Regions from separate parts of the Homo sapiens genome. Here region 2 is linked to region 1. Evidence: fine-mapped expression QTL. A gene starts in region 1. The other region holds a variant in brackets. All regions are shown on one strand. Distances are between the middles of the regions. Region 1 holds the start of CGAS (cyclic GMP-AMP synthase). Region 2 overlaps CGAS (cyclic GMP-AMP synthase).

The links. PIP is the estimated chance that this variant, and not a neighbour inherited with it, causes the effect.
Region 2: its variant is fine-mapped to the expression of CGAS in monocytes (CEDAR, PIP 0.95). The same link has a PIP of 0.9 or more in B cells.

Annotation. Positions count from the first base shown.
Region 1 is chr6:73,446,416-73,456,149 of GRCh38, forward strand. It overlaps CGAS (cyclic GMP-AMP synthase), which reads right to left and starts at 5,882. Exons shown (of 5, transcript NM_138441.3): 1 at 5,110-5,882. The coding sequence starts at 5,766. RefSeq lists a silencer at 5,304-5,513 and an enhancer at 5,684-6,163.
Region 2 is chr6:73,418,743-73,428,476 of GRCh38, forward strand. CGAS (cyclic GMP-AMP synthase) reads right to left here. Exons shown (of 5, transcript NM_138441.3): 5 at 4,969-6,836. The coding sequence ends at 6,485. Among named protein-coding and RNA genes, the nearest start is that of CGAS, 29 kb to the right of the region's middle. RefSeq lists a silencer at 2,844-3,138. The variant T/A (reference allele first, on the strand shown) is at 5,247.

The sequences.
Region 1 (9,734 bases):
AGCATTATTTATTGAAAAAAAAAAATCGGGCCGGGCGCGGTGGCTCACGCCTGTAATCCCAGCACTTTGGGAGGCCGAGGCGGGTGGATCATGAGGTCAGGAGATCGAGACCATCCTGGCTAACAAGGTGAAACCCCGTCTCTACTAAAAATACAAAAAAAAATTAGCCGGGCGCGGTGGCGGGCGCCTGTAGTCCCAGCTACTCGGGAGGCTGAGGCAGGAGAATGGCGTGAACCCGGGAAGCGGAGCTTGCAGTGAGCCGAGATTGCGCCACTGCAGTCCGCAGTCCCGCCGGGGCGACAGAGCGAGACTCCGTCTCAAAAAAAAAAAAAAAAAAAAAAAAAAAAAAATCGTCCTTTCAGCCAGGCGCGGTGGCTCACGCTTGTAATCCCAGTACTTTGGGAGGACGAGGCAGGCGAATCACAAGGTCAAGAGATCAAGGCCATCCTGGCCAACATGGTGGAACTTCGTCTCTATTAAAAATATGAAAATTAGCTAGGTGTGGTGGCATGCACCTGTAGTTCCAGCTACTCAGGAGGCTGAGGCAGGAGACTTGCTTGAACCCGGGAGGCGGAGGTTGCAGTGAGCCGAGATGGTACCACTGCACTCCAGCCTGGGCGACAGTGCGAGACTCCGTCTCAAAAAATAAATGAATACATATTTTAATCAGTTTGTCAATTTAATTTAAAAAACTGATCATATTTCAACTGATTGCATTAAATCTAGAACAATTTGAGGAAAAATGAACACGATATAGTTGTCAATTACTTCCTCTTCAAATTTACCCAGTTATGTTTTTAAGTTTTGAATATCTTTAGTGATATTTATTCCTAAATATTTGATTTTTAAATTGTTTTTCAAGTTTTCAGTTTTTTGTTTTTTTTTGAGACAGAGTTTCACGCTTGTCACTGAGGCTGGAGTGCAATGGAGCAAGCTTGGCTCACTGCAACCTCAGCTTCCTGGGCTCAAGCAATTCTCCTGCCTCAGCCTCCCAAGTAGCTGGGAATACAGGCGCGCACCAACACGCCCAGCTAATTTTTGTAGTTTTAGTAGAGACAGGGTTTTGCCATGTTGACCAGGCTGGTCTCAAACTCCTGACCTCAAGTGATCTGCCTGCCTCTACTCCCAAAGTGCTGGGATTATAGGCGTGAGCCACCATGCCTGGCCAAAGTTTTCAATTTTTATTTTTTAGAGATGGGGTCTCTAGGCTGGAGTACAGTGGCTACTCACAGATAGATCATAGTGTACTGCAGCCTCAAACTCCTGACTTGATGTGATTCTCCCACCTCGGCCTCCCAAATAGCTGGGACTATCAGAATGCACCAATGGACCTAGGTTTGATATTTTTGATGATATTCTAAATGGTATTTTCATTTTGTTTTTAATCTTGTTAGTATATTGAAATATTTTTATTTTTGTTTATTGACTTTGCAACCAGCAATTTTGCTAATTTACTAATTATTTCCAACAGTTTATATGTGAAGCCAATCAAGTCATCTACACATAACGATTTCATCACTCTTTTTCCCATCTTATGCCTTTATTTTCCTTGTCTTGCTGCATCAGCTGTATGTATTCCTTTACGTTCTTTTTGTTGTTGTTCAACATTATTTATGTAATTCATTTTCACTGTTCATGTTGCTGTAGTTTGTTCCTTTTCTTTACCAGTTAATATACCATTACTTAAAACCACTGGCCGGGCACAGTGGCTCACGCCTGTAATCCCAGTACTTTGGGAGGCTGAGACGGGTGGATCACCTGAGGTCAGGAGTTTGAGACCAGCCTTACCAACATGGAGAAACCCCATCTCTACTAAAAACACAAAAAATTAGCCAGGCATGGTGGTGCATTCCTGTAATCCCAGCTACTCGGGAGGCTGAGGCAGGAGAATCGCTTGAACCTGGGAGGCAGAGGTTGCAGTGAGCTGAGGCCACCCACGCCATTGTACTCCAGCCCAGGCAACAAGAGTGAAACTCTGTCTCAAAACAAAACAAAACAAAAAACAAACAAACAAAAAAAACTACAATTAATTGATTTCTATGTAACCTTTTCACTGAGTCCAAACTATATAAATAGTAAAGTACATTAACACTTAGAATGAAAAGAACATATGGACTGACAATTCTACAGGGAATTTCTACAAGAAACTTCCCATGTATTTTCGAGATTTTTTTTTACCTAGAATTTGTAGTCCCAGGTAGCTGGGACTACCTGTGTGTGCCACCACATCCAGTTAATTTTTAACTTATTTTTGGTAGAGCTGGGGTCTCACTATGTTGTCCAGGCTGGACTCAAACTCCCGCCTCAGCCTCCCATGGTGCTAGGATCACAGGCATGAGTCCACTGTACCTGGCCCACATATATCTCATAATCAGTAATAGAAAAAGTTTTAGGCTGGGTGTAGTGGCTCACGCCTGTAATCCCAGCACTTTGAAAGGCTGATGCAGGTGGATCACTTGAGGTCAGGAGTTCGAGACCAGCCTGGCCAACATGCTGAAACCTTATCTCTACTAAAAATACAAAATTAGCCAGGTGAGGTGACGCCCGCCTGTAATCCCAGTTACTCTGGAGGCTGAGGCAGGAGACTCACTTGAACCCGGGAGGCGGAGGTTACAGTGAGCCAAGATCACATCACTGCACTCCACCCTGGGTGACAGAGCAAGACTCCATCCCCAAAAAAAAAGAAAAAAGAAAAAGAAAAAAAGAAAAAGTTTTAGATAAAACAAATTTCACTGGATTTCTTTTCATTGGCATAATTTTTAAAAACAAAGTGGTTCTGGGCTGGGCATGGTGGCTCCCACCTGTAATCCCAGCACTTTGGGAGGCCAAGGCGGGAAGATCATGAGGTCAGGAGATAGAGACCAGCCTGGCTAACACGGTGAAACCCCGTCTCTACTAAAAATACAAAAATTAGCTGGGCATGGTGGCGGGCGCCTGTAGTCCCAGCTACTTGGGAGGCTGAGGCAGGAGAATGGTGTGAACCCAGTAGGCAGGGCTTGCAGTGAGCCGAGATCGCGCCACTGCACTCCAGCCTGGGTGACAGAGTGAGACTCTGTCTCAAACACACACACACACACACACACACACACACACAAAGTGGTTCTGAATGGAGACTGTCTTCTGAATGTCTTGTTCTCTAATTCTAACTAGTAACTTTCTTTTTCCTTTGGACCCGCCATATACAGTAATTGAACTGAATTGATACTTACATAATAAGAATCATGCTCAATCAGAGACATATCTGATGCTGAAAAGTAAATTAGTTAATTAAAAAGAATCATGCTCAAGACACAGTCTGGGCTGGGTGCCGTGGCTCAAGCCTGTAATCCCAGCACTTAGGGAGGCCGAGGCAGGTGGATCATCTGAGGTCAGAGTTCGAGACCAGCCTGGCCAACATGGTGAAACCCCGTCTCTACTAAAAATACATAAATTAGCCGGGAGTGGGGGCAGGCACCTGTAATCCCTGCTATTTGGAAGGCTGAAGCAGGAGAATCGCTTGAACCTGGAAGCCGGAGGTTGCAGCGAAACCTAGATGGCACCACTGCACTACAGCCTGGGCAACAAGAGTGAAACTCCATCAAAAAAAGAAGAAAGAAGAAAGAAAAGAAAGAAAGAACAAAATAAAGAGAGAGAGAGAGAGAGGAAGAGAGGGAGGGAGGAAAAGAGAGAGACAGAGAGATAGAGAGAAGAGAAGAGAAGAGAAAAAAGAAGAGAAAAGAAGCCGGGTGTGGTGGCTCACGCCTGTAATCCCAGCACTTTGGGAGGCTGAGGCTGGCAGATCACCTGAGGTCGGGAGTTCTAGACCAGCCTGACCAACATGGAGAAAGCCCGTCTCTACTAAAAATACAAAATTAGCCAGGGTGGAGGCTCATGCTTGTAATCCCATCTACTCAGGAGGCTGAGACAGGAGAATCGCTTGAACCTGGGAGGTGGAGGTTGAGGTGAGCTGAGATCGCGCCATTGCACTCCAGCCTGGGTAACAAGAGCGAAACTCCGTCTCAAAAAAAAAAAAAAGAAAGAAAGAAAGAAAAAGAAAAAGAAACAAATCTCTTGCTGGGCAAGAAACACGCTCCAGTCAGGAACCTGCTTCTAAACTTTCAATTTACACAGGAATGATTAATGACTCAATCACCCACAAGCAAATGGAGCTGTGTAATACACACGTCGAAGCAATTATACGGAATGTGTATCTAGAAAGCGTTTTAGTATCTGTAGGAGATATTCTTATTTGTTTGTTTAACATTATACTGTAAGCTTCCCATGATTTCTGTGTAAGAAACTGGGGACAGACGGCCGGGCGCGGTAGCTCACGCCTGTAATCCCAGCACTTTGAGAGGCCGAGACGAGCGAATCAAGAGGTCAGGAGATCGAGACCATCCTGGCTAACACGGTGAAACACCGTCTCTACTAAAAATACAAAAAAAATTAGCCGGGCATGGTGGCGGGCGCCTGTAGTCCCAGCTACTCGGGAAGCTGAGGCAGGAGAATGGCGTGAACCCGGGAGGCGGAGCTTGCAGTGAGCCGAGATAGCGCCACTGCACTCCAGCCTGGGGGACGCAGCGAGACTCCGCCTCAAAAAAAAAAAAAAAGAAAAGAAAAGAAAAAAGAAAAAAAAGAAATTGGGGTCAGACGGGATAGCAGGAGAGGGGGCAGGGAGGAAGAGGGGGAGAGAAACTGAAGATCTTTTTTTCTATGGAGTAAGAGGTCTTCCTCATAGGAAAAAGTCTACGTGGAATTTTTAACAGACCACTTCAAATTATCCAAGTCAATATCTGACTCGGGACCTCAGGTCCACACCATCAAACACTGCCCTGTTACGGAAACTCGATACATGTCGGCTTGCATGAATGAACCCATACATTTGAATTCCCCCGGGAGCAGTGTCTTGAAATTAGCCAGCAATCAGTACCGGTTGGTTGTCTGATCGTTGGATGTGTAGATGAATAAACGAACGGTTTGTCGTTTTACTTAGACTAGGCTACCGAAAAACATGCAAAAGTCTAAGTTACTTCCGAAGGGAAGTGAGGGGCGCGACCCGGGGAAGGTAGGGACTGCGGATTGCGGAAGGCCGAGCAGCGGGGCTCGGCGGGAGGGCGCCAAGCAGCTCACCTTCACGTGCTCATAGTAGCTCCCGGTGTTCAGCAGCCCGACGCCTCTGAACGCGGAGTCGCACTTCAGTCTGAGCAGCAGGTGGTCCACAACCCCTTTCACCATCCCCGCCGCCGTGGAGATATCATCGCGGCTGAGCTTCAACTTCTCCAAAACCGCCCGGAGCTTCGAGGCCCCAGGCGCCGCATCCCTCCGTACGAGAATGGGGGCCGAGACCGGCAGGCCGGGGCTGGGCACGTCCCAGGGCCCGGGCGGAGGTCTTGGCTTCGTGGAGCAGCGCGCGCCCCTCTGGCGGCAAGAACCAGCCCTGGAAAGAGCCGGCTCCCGAGCCGCAGGAGGCTCCAGCCCCTCTGCCCCAGGGGCGCTGGTGGCGTCAGACGGCTGCGTGTCCTGGGCGCGCTGAGGGGCCTTTTTGGCGCGGGCCCCAGTTGCGCGGACGGGCGGCCTCTCCTGGGTGTCCGGGGCGCTCTTTTTCTGCCGGGATCCCGACTTCCTGGCGGGGCCGAACTTTCCCGCCTTAGGCAGGGCGGCCTCGGGGGCAGCCGGAGACTCGGTGGGATCCATCGGGGCGCCCCTGGCATTCCGTGCGGAAGCCTTGGGGGCAGTGGCTCCGGCCTCGGAAGCTCTCTGCATGGCCTTTCCGTGCCAAGGCTGCATGGCTGGCGCTTTCTGTTCCCCGAAAGAAGAATCCGTTTCAGGAAAAGGCCGCAAGAGGAAGAGCCAGCAGCAGCTGTTGGAAACCAAGCACTACTGGCGGGCACACAAGAGTCTGCGACCCGAAGGGGAACCCCAGGCTGGGAAGTCGCTGGGAGCCACGCCCATGCCGCGAAGAGGCTGGCCGCGGCCTTTCCTGAGGCTACAAAAGTCTCGAAGTTTCTAACTCTCCAGGCAATCCGTGCCCCTGTCTTAAGAAGATGAGGTAGGGCCGGGCGCGGTGGCTCACGCCTGTAACCTCAGCATCCGAGAGGCCGAGGCAGGCGGGTCGCTTGAGCTCAGGAGTTTGAGACCAGCCTGGGCAACCCAGCAAGACCTGGTCTTTCTTATAATTAAATATATGTGTGTGTGTGTGTTGCCTGGGCACACTGACTCACGCCTGTAATCCCAGCAATCTGGGAGACCGAGGTGGGCGGATCACCTGAGGTCAGGAGTTCAAGACCAGCCTGGCCAACAAGGCGAAAGAAACCCCGTCTCTACTAAAAAATACAAATATTAGCTAGGCGTGGTGGCGGGCACCTGTAATCCCAGCTACTCGGGAGGCTGAGGCTGGAGAATCACTTGAACCCGGGAGGCGGAGGTTGCAGTGAGCTGAGACGTGCCACTTCACTCCAGCCTGGGCGACAGAGCGAGACTCTGTCTCAAAAAAGAAAAAGAGGCCAGGCGTGGTGGCTCACGCCTGTAATCTCAGCAGTTTGGGAGGCCGAGGCGGGCGGATCACGAGGCCAAGACATCGAGACCTTCCTGGCCAACATGGTGAAACCCCGTCTCTACTAAAAATACAAAAAATTAGCCGGGCTTGGTGGCGCCTGTAGTCCCATCTACTCGGGAGGCCGAGACAGAGAACTGCTTGAACCCGGGAGGCAGAGGTTGCAGTGAGCCGAGATCGCGCCACTGCACTCCAGCCTGGGCAACAGAAAAAGAGTCCATCACAAAACAAAACAAAACAAAACAAAAACATTGACAGAGAAACTTTTCTCTTTCAAGTGAAAGTTTTTTTAAATTTAATTTTGGTTTGAGTTAGGGGGGCGCAATCTCGGCTCACTGCAACCTCAGCCACCAGGGCTCAAGCGATCCTCCCACCTCAGCATCCTGAGTAGCTGTTACTACAGGTGCGGACACCATGCCCAGCTTTTTCTTTTCTTTTTAATTTTTTTGTATACATGGGGAGGTCTCACTATGTTGCCCAGGCTGGTCTCGAACTCCTAGACTCAAGCGATTCTCCCTCCTCAACCTCCCAAAGTGTTGGGATTGTAGGCATGAGCCACTGTGCCCTGCCACAGAAACTTTTTCTTTTCTTTTTTTTCTTTTTCTTTTCTTTCTTTCTTTCTTTTTTTTTTTTTTTTTTTTTGAGACAGAATTTCGCTCTTGTCACCCAGGCCGAAGTGCAATGGTGCGATCTTGGCTCACTGCAACCTCTGCCTCCTGGGTTCAAGCAATTCTCCTACCTCAGCCTCCCGGGTAGCTGGGATTACAGACGCCCGCCACCACGCCCGGCTAATTTTTCGTATTTTTAGTAGAGACGGGGTTTCGCTATGTTGGCCAGGCTGCTCTCAAACTGCTGACCTCAAGTGATCCACCCGCCTCGGCCTCCCAAAGTGCTGCGATTACAGGCGTGAGCCACGGCGCCTGGCCAGAAACTTTTCCCTTTTTTTTTTTTTTTTTCCTGAGATGGAGTCTCATTCTGTCCCCTAGGCTGGAGTGCAGTGGCACGATCTCGGCTCACTGTAACCTCTGCCTCCCGGATTCAAGCGATTCTCCTGCCTCAGCCTCCGAAGTAGCTGGGACTACAGGTGTGCGCCGCCATGCCCGGCTAATTTTTGTATTTTTAGTAGAAAGGAGTTTCACCATATTGGCCAGGCTGGTCTGGGACTCCTTATCTCGTGATCCACCTGCCTCGGCCTCCCAAACTGTTGGGATTACGGGCATGAGCCTCAGCGCCCGGCCAACTTTTTCAATGTAAATTTAAATAGGGTTTTTTAAAAATCAATAAGAAATAAAATAATAATTTTTAAAAAGAAAAAAATTAATAACAAATGAAAAATACTTTGAAAAAAGAAAAAAATAAGAAAGAGAAAATATTCAACTTTTACAAGATGGAATGAAACAAAGATTGACTGCAATTGGAGTAAATACTTCTATTTGACATTTTTTAAAAAGCACAGAAAATCTTTAAAATGTTGTGTAAAGTTTCTGCCTGGTGCGGTGACTCACGCCTATAATCCCGGCACTTTGGAAGGCGAAGGTGGGTGGATCACTTGAGGTCAGGAGTTCAAGACCAGCCTGTCCAGCATGGTGAAAACCCATCTCTACTAAAAATACAAAAATTAGCCAGGTGTGGTGGGCCATGCTTGTAAACCCAGCTACTGGGGAGGCTGAGACGGGAGAATTGCTTGAATCGGGAAAGCGGAGGTGGTAATGAGCTGAGATCAGACCACTGCACTCCATCCTGGGCGACAGGGCAAATGACTCTGTCTCAGGGGGAAAAAAAGTTGTGTAAAGTTCTCTCTTTTTATTTTATTTTATTTTATTCATTTTTGAGACGGAGTTTTGCTCTTGTTGCCCAGGCTGGAGTGCAATGGTACAATCTCAGCTCACCACACCCTCCGCCTCCCGGGTTCAAGAGATTCTCGTGACTCAGCCTCTTGCGCAGCTGGGACTACAGGCGTGCCCCACCATGCCCAGCTAATTTTTGTATGGTTTTGTAGAAATGTGGTTTCACCATGTTGCCCAGGCTGGTCCCCAACAAGCTATCTGCCCGCCTCAGCCTCCCAAAGTGCTGTTACTGGCATGAGCCACTGCACCGGACCTGGCATTTACATTTTAAATCATTCATACTGCTTCAGCTGTTGTGATTCTAGAGTATCTCAATACAGGCTTTCAAATATCTTTTTTTTTTTTTCGAGATGGAGTTTCACTTTTGTTGTCCAGGCTGGAGTGCAATGGTGCTATCTCGGCTCTCTGTAACCTCCGCCTCCTGGGTTCAAGCGATTCTCCTGCCTCAACCTCCTGAGTAGCTGGGATTATAGGCGCCTGCCACCACACCCAGCTAATTTTTTTACCTTTTTAGTAGAGACGGGGTTTCACCATGTTGACCAGGCTGGTCTCGAACTCCTGACCTCAGGTGATCTGCCCCCTTTGGCCTCCCAAAGTGTTGGGATTACAGGCGTGAGCCACCTTGCCTGGCCTTCAAGTATCTATTTCTAAAGCCCCTGATAGAAATGCATATTAGAGGTCAGGCGCAGTGGCTCATGCCTATAATCCCAGCACTTCAGGAGCCCTAGATCTTCTGAGATCAGGAGTTCAAGACCAGCCTGGCCTACATGATGAAACTTTGTCTCTACTAAAAATACAAAAAATTAGCCGGGTGTGATGGCACATGTCTGTGATCCCAGTTACTCGGGAGGCTGAGGCAGGAGAATAGCTTGAACCCAGGAGGCAGAGGTTGCAGTGAGTGAGATCCTGCCACTGCACTCCAGCCTGGGCAACAGAATGAGACTCTGTCTAAAAAAAAAAAATAATAATAATAAAAGAAATGCATATTAGACAAGAACCTCTTGGGTTTAGAAAGCCTTGACTACTTTTTTTTTCTTTGTACTATTTGAACCATTTTTGGGGGGTGTATAATTCAATGATATTAAGTATGTTCACATTCCTATGCAACCATCACTATCATCTGTCTTCAAAACTCTTCATCTTGCAAAACTGAAACTCTGTACCCATAAACAATAACTCATCTTTCTCTCCTCTCTCTAGCCCCTGGCAACCACCATTATACTTTCTGACTGTGATTTTGACTGCTCTAAGTACTTTATGTCAGTGAAATGATGCAACGTTTGTCTTTTTGTTACTGGCTTATCACTCTTAGCCAATGTTCATCTATGTTGCAAGAATTTCCTTCCGTTTTAGGG
Region 2 (9,734 bases), 28 kb before region 1:
ACCCAGGGGTGGTGGGGCATGCCTGTAATCCCAGCTACTCAGGAGGCTGAGGCAGGAGAATCACTTAAGCCTGGGAGGCAGAGGTTGCGGTGAGCCGAGATCACGCTACTGCACTCCAGTCTGGGTGACAGAGTGAGACCCTGTCTCAAAAAAAAAAAAAAAGTAAGGTTAAGCAAGGATGAGCAATTAGCTTACAAGAAATAAAGTGAGGGTAAGCAAGTGAGGAAAAGAAAAGGCCATGAAATGTAACAAACCAGGCTGATCTCATCTCACAGAAGTCAGTCAGCTCTCCCCTTTGTGAGAGTGCTTAATAAGCTTTTGCTGCTTTGCTTTATTTACTATCTGTGTGTGTCTCATCCAAGTCTTTGTTCAAGACACCAAGTGCCAGGCCAGGCACGGTGGCTCACGTCTGTAATCCCAGCACTTTGGGAGACCGAGGCAGGCAGAACACTGGAGGTCAGGAGTTCGAGACCAGCCTGCCCAACGTGGTGAAACCCCGTCTCTACTAAAAATATGAAAATTAGCCAGGCATGGTGGCGCAGGCCTGCAGTCCCAATCAGGAGGCTGAGGCAGGAGAACCACTGGATGCCAGGAGGCAGAGGTTGCAGTGAGCTGTGATCGGGCCACTGCACTCCAGCCTAGGTGACAGAGTGAGACTCCGTCTCAAAAATGAACAAACAAAACAAGACACCAGGAGCCTGGAATTGCGTGGCACTACCCAGTAATAAAATGTTAGATTAATAATGCTATTTCTCTGTATTTTCACTGTTTGTTTTTTTTTACACTTTAACGTGAACATCTGACTTTTTCACATTGAACACATATTACTTTTTTTTTGAGACAGAGTTTCACTCTTGTTGCCCAGGCTGGAGTGCAATGGCACAATCTCAGTTCACCCACAACCTCCGCCTCCCAGGTTCAAGCGACTCTCCTGCCTCAGCCTCCCAAGTAGCTGGGATTACAGGCATCCACCCTCATGCCTGGCAAAATGAAAAAGATTTAAAAGTAATATGTGTTCAGGCCACCGCGCCCGGCAAAATGAAAAAATTTAAAAATAATATGTGTTCAGGCCGTGCACAGTGGCTCACGCCTGTAATACCAGCACTTTGGGAGGACGAGGCGGGCGCATCACCAGAGGTCAGGAGTTCGAGCCCAGCCTGACCAACACGGAGAAACCCGGTCTCTACTAAAAATACAAAATTAGCCAGATGTGGTGGCGGGCGCTTATAATCCCAGCTACTCGGGAGGCTGAGGCAGGAGAATCGCTTGAACCCGGGAGGTGGAGTTTGCAGTGAGCCAAGATTAGGTCATCGCACTCCAGCCTGGGCAACAAGAGGGAAATTCTGTCTCAAAAAAAAAAATTGTTTTCATTTTTATCAAAGTCAAATATACATGTAATGTATGGAAGCAAATGGTTCTACAAGACTTATTTATTTTTGTTTTTATTTTTTATTTACATTTCTCTGCCAGAAATCTTGGACTTACAAAGCTTATTTAAAAAGTAGTCTGTTGTCAGAAAAGATGGTAGCCTAGTCTTGGTATTCCTGTGGAGAACTTAGAAAACCTGAAGAGTACTTGTACCCAAATTGGATTGTGTTTTAATGGACAATGGCTATATTTTCCCCATGTCAAAAGAATACCAATGAAAGCAGCTGTTTTTCAAGTTCCTAGGGGTCCAGTTGTCCAGAATCCCCAAGGATAAGATGCTCCCTATAAGAGCAGAACCTTAACCTCACTCAGTGACATCGTAGGAACCTCTAGCTGTGGAATTTCTTAGGAACTCAAACTTTCAAAAGCATCCAGAGAGTCAAAGCTGGGGGAAAAAAAGCACATAAAAATAACAAAATTTTTAGGCCAGGCGCAGTGGCTCACGCCTTAATCTCAGCACTTTGGAAGGCCAAAGCAGGTGGATCATGAGGTCAAGCATTCAAGACCAGCCTGGCCAACATAGTGAAACCCTGTCTCTACTAAAAATACAAAAAATTAGGTGGGCGTGGTGGTGGGTGCCTGTAATCCCAGCTACTTGGGAGGCTAAGGCAGGAGAATCGCTTGAACTCGGGAGGCGGAGGTTGCAGTGAGCCAAGATCGCGCCACTGCACTCCAGCCTGGGTGACAGAGCAAGACTCCGTCTCAAAAAAATAAATAAATAAATAACAACAATAATAAAATTTTTTATTATTTTTAATTTAATTAATTTATTTAGAGATGGAATTTCGCTCTTGTTGCCCAGGCTGGACTGCAATGGCACAATCTCGGCTCACTGCAACCTCTGCCTCCCAGGTTCAAGCAATTCTTCTGCCTCAGCCTTCCTGAGTAGCTGGGATTACAGGCATGCGCCACCACACCCGGCCAATTTTGTATTTTTAGTAGAGACGGGGTTTCTCCATGTTGATCAGGCTGGTCTTGAACTCCTGACCTCAGGTGATCCGCCCGCCTCGTCCTCCCAAAGTGCTGGGATTACAGGCATGAGCCATGGCACCCAGCCATAAAATTTATTTTTTATATTCTACTAATAAATGCTGTTGTACTTGGGCATGATCAATCATATAACTGTCATTTTTTGGTTTTATGCTGTTTTGGTTTGGTTTTTGCCAACTATATTCACATTTACAAACTAACTAAATAAAATCATTTTATTTAAAAAAAAAAGTAGTCCCGAACCCTTCCACCCTTCATTTTCCACTCCCAAGATGTAACCTTTTCATCTTTTAGCCATTAATAACTTGCTTATACTGCAATTTCTTGGTTTTAAAAATTTGACATTTACTGACTTCCCACTATAAGGAAGATTAATTCAGTTTTTGCATACCTGTGACAGTCGGACCCTCAGGGTTGTCCTGTGGCCCCCCACCTCCTGAGGTTCATATCTATGTAGTAAGGAATTTAACCTAACCCAAAGAAAAGTCTCACCTTTGCCCTTGGCTTCTGAAAGGTAATGGCTGAATTCTTGGAATGTGCCAGAAAGTATAACAATGTGATTTATGGTGGGGTCTTTGGGTCATGGTATCAGCTTATACTGTTTGCCTTCCAGAGGAGCTGGAGACTGAGGTTAGACATATGTCCAGCCAACCATGAGCTGCAGTAAGAACTCTGGACATGGCTCAGGTGAGCTTCCCTGGCTGGCAATATTCTGCGTGTATTGGCACACATTGATGCCAAGAGAATAACATGTCCATGACTCCACCAAAAGACAACAGAAAGTGCTGTGTTTGCTACTCTCTTAAACTCTGCCTTACGCACTTCTTCCTTTGGCTGATTTAAACTTGCATGCTTACTATATAATAAACTGCAACCATGAGCATAGTGGTTTTAGTGAGTTCTGTGAGTCTTTCATCAAACCTCAGGGTGGTTTTAGGAATCCCTTGAAATTGCAATTGTTGACAGAAATGAGGGTGGTCTTATGGGAACTGTTTTCCCCCTAACTGTATCGCTGGCATCTGAGACAACAAGAACACCCTTGAGTGATTCCTCTCCTCTTGGGTATGAGAGGGACCTTTGACTTGCTTCCAATCAATAGAATACAGTACAGGCAACGGACTGTACATAATTATGTGTATGTAATTGTGTTAAACAAGTTTGTAGCACTCCTCTTGCTGGAGTACCTCCCTTGCTGGCTTTGAAGAATCGAGCTACTGTTGTGGGCTGCCTATGTTGGGAGGCTCACATGGTAAGGAACTGAAGACAGCTTCTAGGAACTGAGGGCAACCTCTGGCTGACAGCAAGAAACTGAAGCCCTCAGTCCTACAAATGTAAAGGAACTAAATTCTGCCAACAAAAATGGTTCCTTCTCCAGTCAAGCCTCAGATGAGGCTACAGCGCTGGCTGACGTCTTAATTATAGCCTTGAGAGACTCTGAGCAGAGCCACACCCAGAATTTTGGCCCACTGAAAATGTGAGATAATAAATATGTGTTGTTTTAAGCCTCTAAGGTTGTGGTTAATTGTTACACAGGAAACTAATGTAATCTCCCTACCACTGTCACCATACAGGAACTAAGCCTATTGTCCTATCCTAACCACAGAGTGGGTAATCATAATTTCTTTCTTTCTTTTCACATTAAAAAAGTTTTTTTTTAATTTTTTTTTTTTTTTTGAGATGGAGTCTCGCTCTGTCACCAGGCTGGAGTGCAGCGGCACTGTCTTGGCTCACTGCAACCTCTGCCTCCTGGGTTCAAGCGATTCTCCTGCCTCAGCCTCCCAAGTAGCTGGGATTACAGGCACGTACCACCATACTCATCTAATTTTTGTATTTTTAGTAGAGATGAGGTTTCACCATGTTGGCCAGGCTGGTCTTGAACTCCTGACCTCATGATCTGCCCGCCTTGGCCTCCCAAAGTGCTGGAATTACAGGGGTGAGCCACCGCCCCTGGTTTTTAATTTTTTTAAAGTCGACAACAGTCCATAACTTCAATAAGATTAATAGTCAATGGTTACATTACTATGACTTTGTCAATACTTAAACAGCTGAGCAATATTCTTATATCAGACTTTTCTTTCATGCATTCATTTTTCTTATGGAGTTAAAAATTGCTTAGATTGGCTGGGCACAGTGCTCACATCTGTAATCTTAGCACTTTGGGAGGCTGAGATGGGTGTATCACCTGAGGTCAGGAGTTTGAGACCAGCTTGACCAACATGGTGAAACTCTGTCTCTACTAAAAATACAAAAATAATTAGCCAGGCATGGTGGCGTGCAACTGTAGTCCCAGCTACTTGGGAGGCTGAGGCAGGAGAATTGCTTGAACCGGGAGGAGGAGGGTGCAGTGAGCCAAGATCGTGCCACTGCACTCCAGCCTGGGCGACAGAGTGAGACTGTCCCAAAAAAAAAAAAAATTGCTTAGATTATTTTATTTGCATAGTGGTTTATTTATCATTAATTGTCCCCAAAACTCTTCAAATGTCTAATGTTTCTCTTAGTATGTTCAAACATAGTAGGCTGTTAAACAAGATGTATAAAGCAAAAACCATAAAAAATTCAACTCCAATTTATTCTCAAAAGCTTGAATGAGAAAAGAAATCAACTCCATTAAAATTTAAAAATCTTTACAATAAACAAAACAATACAAAACAAAAAAACCTTGTTTACTAAAAGACACCAAAAAATGTGCAGACAACCCATATGGCAGAAGTTATTTGTTACACAGACAACGAATGAAAGATAAATACCCCAAATATATTAAGAACTTCCCAAAACAATGAGAAGAAAACTAACCCATAAGAAAATGTGCAAAATATATGAACAGGAAA[T/A]ATTTAACAAACAGCAGTTGCCTCTAGGCTGAATGCTACCTAAAATAAAAAAAGTGTTACTGAAAGTAAAAATAAATAGATAACAGAAAATAAGTTAGGTTTTACATTTAGTCACGTATATTAAAATAAAGTATCTTATGTTTTCTTTTAAGATTATGTATTTCAGCCAGGCGTGGTGGCTCACACCTGTAATCCCAGCACTTTGGGAGGCCAAGGCGGGCGGATCACAAGGTAAGGAGATCGAGACCATCCTGGCTAACATGGTGAAACCCCATCTTTACTAAAAATACAAAAAATTAGCCGGATGTGGTGGCGGGCACCTGTAGTCCCAGCTACTCGGAAGGCTGAGGCAGGAGAATGGCATGAACCCAGGAAGCAGAGCTTGCAGTGAGCCAAGATCATGCCACTGGACTCCAGCCTGGGCGACAGAGCGAGACTCCATCTAAAAAAAAAAAAAAAAAATTATGTATTTCCTGGCCAGGCACGGCGGAGAGCTGTTTTTCAGTAAGAACTTGATGAATTTAATTAAGGCAATATGTACTTTATCTTTTTTTATTCCAACCTAAAAATGTCATTTATTTATTTATTTGCCTGCATGATAAAGCAAACATGGTAATGTTTTTAGATTTCAAATACTACTTTTGCTTCTTATTCCTTGACTAATCTTTTTCCTAGGATAGTCAATCCTTTATACTGATTAGAGTTTATTACAACAAACTGAAAACTGAATAATTATTTACATTCATTTTAGTCAATTATTGCTGTGACAAATTTCAAACATTCCAATTATTACAGTCACTAATTTTTGTTATTTTGTTGCTTTTCTAAAAAATTATTTTAATAATTTCCTAATTTATTTTTCTTATTTATTTATTTATTTTTTGAGAGGAAGTCTTGCTCTGTCACCCAGGATGGAGTGCAGTGGTGCCATCTTGACTCACTGCAACCTCCACCTCCTGGGTTCAAGTGATTCTCATGTCTAAGCCTCCCGAGTAGCTGGGATTACAGGCATGCATCACCATGCCCGGCTAATTTTTATATTTTTAGTAGAGATGGAGTTTCACCATGTTGGTCAGGCTGGTCTCAAACTCCTGACCTCAAGTGATCCGCCTGCCTCGGCCTCCAAAGAGCTGGGATTACAGGTGTGAGCCACAGCGTCTGGCCCCTTTTCAAATTTTTCTTGTATTCTCCAGGATTTAGGGTGACTCTAGTTCTTAGATCTTTCTAAAAATACAATCTCAAAATTCATCAAAAACTGGAAACTCATTGTTTCTTTCATATTCAATTTGCTTTGTCAGAAATTCCTTACTTCTTTTGTCAATTAAGTTGCTAGAGAATAGATTGAATTCAGGAATAAAATAATTCTCAAGTTTTTCTGTCCTGAGGCACTGAAGAAAGTATGTCACGCAGTTATCAAAGCAGAGGCCCAGGTCTTTGCGGTCCCACTGACTGTCTTGAGGGTTCTGGGTACATACGTGAAAGAAGGCAGTTTTCACATGATAAGAAGAGAATTTATCCAGATGTTTTTTGTCTTTAAACCTTTCTTTCAGCTGTTCTAAAAGGTATTTCATTAGTTTTAAACAATCTTTCCTGTTGAATAAAAAAGGAAAACACTTATTTTTACTTATTTACATTCAACAAAGGATTTTAGGCATCTCATAGCAAAAATATAAACAATAAAGATATATAATAACATAAATATAGGCCGGGCGTGGTGACACAACGCCTGTAATCCCAGCACTTTGGGAGGCTGAGGCAGGGGGATCACCTAAGATCAAGAGTTTGAGTCCAGCCTGACTAATATGGTGAAACCCCGTCTCTACTAAAAATACAAAATTAGCTGGGCGTGGTGGCGCACGCCTGTAATCCCAGCTACTCTGCAGGCTGAGGCACGAGAATCGCTTGAAGCCAGGAGGCGGAGGTTGCAGTGAGCCAAGATCGCGTCATTGCACTCCAGCCTGGGCAACAAGAACGAAACTCTGTCACACACAGAAAACAAAAACAAAAACAAAAAAGCCGGGCGCGGTGGCTCATGCCTGTAATCCCAGCACTTTGGGAGGCCTAGGCAGGCGGATCACGAGGTCAAGAGTTCGAGATCAGCCTGGCCAGTATGCTGAAACCCCATCTCTACTAAAAATACAAAAATTAGCCAGGTGTGGTGGCGTGCACCTATAATCCCAGCTACTCGGGAGGCTGAGGCAGGAGAATCACTTGAACCCAGGAGGCAGAGGTTGCAGTGAGCCAAGATCATGCCACTGCACTCCAGCCTGGGCAACAAGTGAGACTCCATCTCAAAATAAAATAAAATAAAATAAAATAAAATAATAAAATAAAATGAAATAAATGAAATGAAATGAAATGATAAAATAAAATAAAATAAAATAAATACAACAGTCACACTAAAATCTGATTATGTTTTCAAATATATGGTTTGAAGTTTCAAAAACACATTTTTTCCCTCTCTTTCCCATTCTTAGCTTAAATATATTCTATGAATTTCTTCAACTGTATAAAGCTAACAGATATTTATACTATTTTTTTTTTTTTTGAGACAGGGTCTCACTCTGTCACCCAGGCTGGGATGCAGTGATACAATCTCGGCTCACTGCAACCTCTGACCCTCCCCTCACCCCCCTCAAGCGATCCAAAATCTTGTTTTGTTATAAAATTATTTTACTTTATTGAACTGCAAATTTAATATAAATTTTTTCTTTTCTAAAATCCACTGATTGTATCACAGAATTATTTACATTATTAAGAGTACCATAGATAATCTGCCATCTCATCTAGTTATTTAGTAGTTGACAAAATGTACTATTTATGAAACTATTTAGCCTTATCAACAATATTTCTTTTTTTTTTTCTTTTTCCTTTTTTTTTGAGATGGAGTCTCGCTCTGTTGCCCAGGCTGGAGTGCAGTGGTGTGATCTCAGCTCACCGCAACCTCTGCCTACTGGGTTCAAGCGATTCTCCTGCCTCAACCTCCTAAGTAGCTGGGATTACAGGTGCATGCCACCTCGCCCGGCTAATTTTTGCATTTTTGTAGAGACGGGGTTTCATAACGTTGGCCAGGCTGGTCTCGAACTCCTGACCTCAGGTGATCTACCTGCCTCGGCCTCCCAAAGTGCTGGGATTACAGGCGTGAGCCACTGTGCCTGGCCAACAATATAGTTTTCTTAATGCTTACTTCAAAGCCTGCATATGAGATCTTAAAGAACCTCTGTGCCTGCATGTTGGGCATTTTTGTTTTGACTTTTTAACTTTTGTGATCTTTATACTGGCCAACTTACTTTATTTATTTATTTATTTATTTATTTATTTATTTATTTAAGATGGAGTCTTGCTCTGTTGCCCAGGCTGGAGTGCAGTGGCATGATCTCAGCTTATTGCAACCTCTGTCTCCCGGGTTCAGGTGATTCTCTTGCCTCAGCCTCCTGAGTAGCGGGGATTACAGGCACGTGCCACTGCGCCCAGCTAATTTTTGTATTTTTAGTAGAGACGGGGTTTCGCCACGTAGGCCAGGCTGGTCTCGAATTCCTGACCTCAGGTGATCCACCTGCCCTGGCCTCCCAAAGTGCTGGGATTGCAGGCCTTGAGCCACCATGCCTGGCCAATACTGGCCAACTTTAGAAACTCAAATGAACAATTCCTTTTCAATCTTAGTTCTTTATGGTGTGTATGCCATCACAAAAAAAAATGGTGGGGTGCAGTGTCTCATCCCCGTACTTCCAAGACTTTGGGAGGCCAAGGCGGGAAGTTTACTTGAACCCAGGAGTTGGTGACCAGCCTGCCTGGGCAACAAAGGGAGACCACCATCTCTACCAATAAAAAAAATTTTTTTTGAGACAGGGTGTCACTATGTCACCCAGGTTGCAGTGCAGTGGCACGATCATGGCTCACTGCAGCCTTGATTTTCTGGGCTCGAGCCATTCTCCTACCTCAGCCTTCCAAGTAGCTGGGACCACAGGCACCAGTCACCATGCCTGGCTAATTTTTAAATTTTTTATGGAGGTGGGGTCTCACCATGTTGCTAGGCTGGGATTACAGGTGTGAGCCAACAGGCCCTCTACAAAATTTTTTTTTAAATTAGCCGAGCATGGTGGCATGCACCTGTAATCTCAGCTACTTGGGGGGCTGAGGTAGGATGATTGCTTGAGCCCAGGAGATCGAGGCTGTGGTGAGCCGTAATTGTGCCACTGCACTCCAGTCTGGGTGACAGAGTGAAAGTCTGTCTCAAAAAAAAAAATTACTCACTTAGTGTTGTTTTCAGTTTGGCCAATCAATCCCTAGCCGTCAACACAACCCAACTATCCCAAAGCAAGCCCAGTATCTAATAAGAGCGACCTTTTGGCCTCCTCCAATTATATGGCATTAATATCCATTACTTTTAAACAAGCAGAATACTAAGACCCATCGAATTGTCATGGCTAGTGCTCATACCCTCTCACTCTGTCCTACTGATACATCTATACAAAAACACATTCATCT